2 separate regions of the Homo sapiens genome follow, and region 1 is linked to region 2. Evidence: fine-mapped expression QTL. Tissue or cell type: lung. Region 2 holds a variant in brackets; the other region holds the start of a gene. All regions are shown on one strand. Distances are from middle to middle.

The links. PIP is the estimated chance that this variant, and not a neighbour inherited with it, causes the effect.
Region 1: it holds the start of KLHL5, and the variant in region 2 is fine-mapped to the expression of KLHL5 in lung (TOPMed, PIP 0.95).

Annotation. Positions count from the first base shown.
Region 1 is chr4:39,061,034-39,063,727 of GRCh38, forward strand. KLHL5 (kelch like family member 5) reads left to right here and starts at 1,199. Exons shown (of 11, transcript NM_015990.5): 1 at 1,199-2,002. The coding sequence starts at 1,620.
Region 2 is chr4:39,220,352-39,223,045 of GRCh38, forward strand. All of the region lies in intron 14 of WDR19 (WD repeat domain 19), which reads left to right. Among named protein-coding and RNA genes, the nearest start is that of WDR19, 39 kb to the left of the region's middle. The variant T/G (reference allele first, on the strand shown) is at 1,109.

The sequences.
Region 1 (2,694 bases), 160 kb before region 2:
AGAAATCTATCATTCTACCTAAACAATGTTTTACTATTCTTAGCAGCCTTCTCCCTAATGAAACTGGCCCATACCACTCCATTGCCATCCTGATATCTCCTTTCTTTCTTACAGTTTGTATGGTTTTTCCCGTATTATTTAGCATGAAATCATACTTGGCTTTTTATGCTTCTCATTCTTGTTTCTCTGAATAATTTGTATTAAGATAGACACCTCACAATATTTTTGTAAGCCTCCAAAGTAGTTTTTGTTTTTGTTTTTTGGTCAGCTTAGATAGGCATTGCCTTTTGTATGGAATTAGTTGATAAAGGAGTAAATACTGAGCACCCTGAAAACTCAAATTCTGCATTGATAGATCACACTTTAATATTGCAGCATTTTAATGTTTCTTATTTTACCTTATCAAATATTTTGTATTTGGTTCAATAGCTAGATTTAATTATTTTGGGGGTTAGGAACCAAGATATATATATCTCTGTGTCCCTGACAATGCCTAGTAGATTGCATTGTTCACAATAACTACTCAGTATTTTTGAGTTTATTTGTATTTGCTTTATCAATTTGCCTTAACTGTAACCATGTTCAAACCATTGTTTGTTTTGCTAACAACAGAGGGCACCATTAGGGCACTTGTACACCCAATAGTCCTATCCCAGTCCCTGGTAGCTTTTTTGAGCCGCACTTTTCCTTTTCCTAAGTAATGTCATAGAAATTTGGATGTTACACTAACTGGCAGTGGCCCATTTCTACTTATAGAGAAATCCTGGCCTCAGTTTATTTGAAAAAGAGTATTTGTTACATTTTGATCCTTTGTAGTTTTCAAACTTTTTATTCTCCTCATTATTCTTTATCCAAGTGAAATCTTACCCAGGATCTTACTGTATTAATTAGATCCATTTGTTTTCTGAAGGGAGAAGATAGAGGTGAAGGCAATAGTCTGGAGCCCCACCTTTGTACTCCGCTTTCCTCCTCATTCCCCATCCAAAGAGCACACCTGGAAAATCACCATAACTCATCTAATTTTACAAATGCTTTTTTAAAAACTTGTTTTGTGGTATTTCACTTAGGGACTTAGTTTAGAAATAGAAACATTTTAGTTTTAAAGTGATTATTTTTAAGTACAAAGGGAAATGCTATAGAATACATTTATTGTTTCAGCAATGAAAGAGTTAATATACTAAGCAGCAGAGACTGAGATACTGCAACGGGGATAGTGTTTTCTGTCTCTGTCATTTGTGGTTTAAGAAAAAGGGGGTGGTGTTCTGCATTTGAAAGGACTTTAATGAATGCTGTCAGTGTTTGTGAGACCTAATGGTCAGTATGGGAAAGGAGAGCCGGGAAAGTGGTCTAGCTGCTTCAGGATAGGTGGATGAGAGTTTGCTCTGATTGAACGGAATGTTCCACCGTGTTTCATCTTTATTCATTATCCTTTGTTCTTTAAAATCTGATATATTGGCATAAAAGTAATTGTAGATATATATATGAATGTGATTTATTTTCCTTTACATATTTTTGTTGTGTACAGCAGGGCATATACTTCTCTTGTCTTGGTTGGATGCACAAATCTGTGTGCAGTGCTTTTTGCCCGTTGCCTAGACGATCACTTGGTTTCTCTGAGGATGTCTGGTTCTCGTAAAGAGTTTGATGTGAAACAGATTTTGAAAATCAGATGGAGGTGGTTTGGTCATCAAGCATCATCTCCTAATTCTACAGTTGACAGCCAGCAGGGAGAATTTTGGAACCGAGGACAGACTGGAGCAAACGGTGGGAGAAAGTTTTTAGATCCATGTAGCCTACAATTGCCTTTGGCTTCAATTGGTTACCGAAGGTCCAGCCAACTGGATTTTCAGAATTCACCTTCTTGGCCAATGGCATCCACCTCTGAAGTCCCTGCATTTGAGTTTACAGCAGAAGATTGTGGCGGTGCACATTGGCTGGATAGACCAGAAGTGGATGATGGCACTAGTGAAGAAGAAAATGAATCTGATTCCAGTTCATGCAGGTTGATTATTTTCTTACTGTTAGAAAAGGGGTGTGGGGGTATGGCTCTATAATGTTTTTAAATAATTTAGTATTTATTATTTAAAATCTGATTATATATGTACATCTGCATACATATATATAATATCTTGGTATGAACATGTGATACTTCTGCTAGGGTTTTTTTAATGTTCTAATAGTCTGTAAAATTACAAAGACAACAAATAGCATTCATTTTGAAATATCTTGTGTTCTATATATAGATCTGGCTCAGCTTTGAAAATAATATATAGTAGCAATTTCATGTATCATTGCCTGTGGTTTGCTTCATTCATTAACCTTCTATATTCATATCAAAACTATAGAAGATATTTCTATAGTATGAAATTTTATGTGACATTTTAGTTTATAACAGATGATAGAGTCATTTTTTAATTTAATGAAAAGGAAAGGTTTTGCAAAGAGATGCACATTATAGTCACCAATTTTTTGACACAATTGTAGTTGTCAATAATATTTTTCTTATGGTTATTTCTCTTTGTCCTGTCTGTGTTACAGCTCTCCAGACTAATATAGAGAATACTAAGTAACATGTCTCTAAGATGACAGCTACTAATTCCTGTTACCTTCACTTTCACTGAAATGTGTGCTATTTAGGGAAATGAAGGACATTCCTCCAGGAGAGTTTAAGGGAATGTAGAGGGGCTAGATGTG
Region 2 (2,694 bases):
TCTGTCACCCAGGCTGGAGTGCAGTGGCACAATCATAGCTTACTACAATCACAACCTCCTGGGCTCAAGCAATCGTCCTGCCTTATCCTTCTGAGTAGCTAGGACAGATGCATGCCACCATGTCGTGCTAATTTTTAGTTTTTTAAATTATTTTTCTTTTTTCTCTTCTTCTTCTTCTTTTTTTTTTTTTTAGAAACAGACCTCCTTGATTTTTTTTTTTTTTTTTTTTTTTTGAGACAGAGTCTCTCTCTGTCGCCCATGCAATTCTCTGCCTCAGCCTCCCTAGTAGCTGGGATTACAGGTACCCGCCACCACACTCAGCTAATTTTTGTATTTTTAGTAGAGACGGGGTTTCATCATCTTGGCCAGGCTGGTCTTGAACTCCTGACCTCGTGATCCACCCGCCTCAGCCTCCCAAAGTGCTGGGATTACAGGCGCAAGGCACCGTGCCCAGCTGAAACATTTTTTATATTTTCTTTTTATTTATTTATTTATTTATTTTAGAAACCTGCTAATTAATTTTTTTTTTTTTTTTTTTTTTTTTGATGGGGGTAGAAACTGGGTCTCCCTTTGTTGCTTGGGCTGGTCTTGAACTCCTAGTCTCAAGTGATCCTCCTACTTTGGCCTCTCAAAGTGCTGGAATTACAGGCATGGGACACAGGAGCCTGGCCTAAATTATTTTTTTTAAAAGAACATGTTTTAAAGCATGCTTGTTGCCATCTGAGAGACTTTTTAAAATTTATGTTTGACCTAAACTAGTAAGTCTCTGAGATAATATACATCAGTAAGGTAGGTCTCATATATCAGGTAATTTGGTGATATGGAAAAATATGGAATAGGAAATTTGTATGACACTAATAGTTTATAGAGCCCTGATCTCACTTATTTTATCTCATTATCTATAAAATACACAGGGAAATTTTCAGGAGGAAGATACTGAAGATTGAGAGGCTAGCAAGTCTGTAGCAAAGTGGAACTTAAACTAAGATTTCCTGATGGAAAATCTACTCTTTCCACTATGCCACAGTGCTTTTGGAATAAGTGTAGTAGTCTGTTCATAAAGCAGCAACTATCCTGGTTTCATTCTTGAGTGATTCAGAAAATATCA[T/G]GTTTTTTGGCAGCTTTATTGAAGTTTAATTGATATGCAAAAAAATGCACTATTAAAGTTATACAATTTGGACAGGCGTGGTGGCACATGCCTGTAATCCCAGCACTTTGGGAGGCCAAGGCAGGCTGATTGCCTGAGCTCAGGAGTTTGAGGCTCAGAAATAGTGAACATACTCATCACCCCCAAAAGTTTTCTCCTGCTCCTTTATGATTCCTCCCTCTCATCTGTCCCCACCCCATGCTTTTTCTGTAACTGTAAATGTAATAAATGTTTGTATATTCTAGAGTTTCATATAAATGGAAACATAAAGTATGCACTACTTTTTGTTTGTCTTTTATTCAACATTAATTTTTTTGAGATGCATTATGCTGTTGTGTGTGTCAGTAATTCATTTCTTTTTATTGCTGAGTAGTAGTAGTCTATAGTATGTATATATCATAATTTGCTTATCCAAGAATTATAGGTGAACATTTGAGTTATTTCCAGTTTGGGGTATTTACAAATAAAGCCTCTATCAACATTCATGTTCAAGAAACTGGTAAACTGTTCTCTAAATCGGTTGTACCATTTTACATTCCCATCAACAGTGTGTGAGTGTTCCAGTTCCTCTCTGTCCTCACCAAGATGTGACATAATCAGTCTTTTTCATTTTAGCCACTCTAATAGATGTGTAGTGGTATCATTGTTATTTTAATTTGGATTCCTAATGAACTAATGATGTGGCACTTAGCATATGTTTATTTGCTTTCTGTATATCTTTGGTGAAGCGTCTGTTCAAATTTTTTGACCAATTTTTGATTGAGTTGTTTTCTTATTGATTTATGAGAGTTCTTTATATATATTTGGATTCAACTCCTTTATCAGATGTATGCTTTGCAAATATTTTCTTCCAGCGCACAGATTGTATTTTTATTCTCTTAATAGTGTCTTTCAAAGAGAAGATTTTTTTTAATGTTTACAAAGTCCAGTTTATCAATTTATTTTTTCATGGATCATGCTTTTGGTGTCATAGCTAAGAAATCTTTGCCTAACCCAGCGTCACAAAATTTTTTCCTATGTTTTCTTCTAGAAATTTTATAGTTTTATGTTTTGCATTTAGGTCCATTGAGTTAAATTTTGTTTATGCCATGAGGTATAGATCACTTTTTGCAAATGATATCCAGTTGTTCCAGCACCATTTTTTGAAAAGATTATCCTTCTCTATCTTGCCCTGAATAGAAGTCCAAAATGTTACCTTTTTTTAAATTTTAATTAAACTTTCTGTTTTGAGATCCTTGTAAAATTCACATGCAGTTGTAAGAAACAACGCAGAGAGAAGTCCTAGGTACCCCTTTACCTAGTTTCCCGCAGTGGTAACATTATAGTAATCACAACCAGGATATTGACATTGGTACAGTCAACATACAGAACAATTCTGCTGCCACCCCATTCTTAACCCCTGGTAACAACTTGTTCTCCATTTCCATAATTTTGCCATTTCAATAATGTGTAAATGGAATCAAACAGTATGCAATATTTTGAGATTGGCTTTTTTTTCACTCAGCAGACTTCTCTGGAGATTCATCTAAGTTGTGTGTATCCATAGT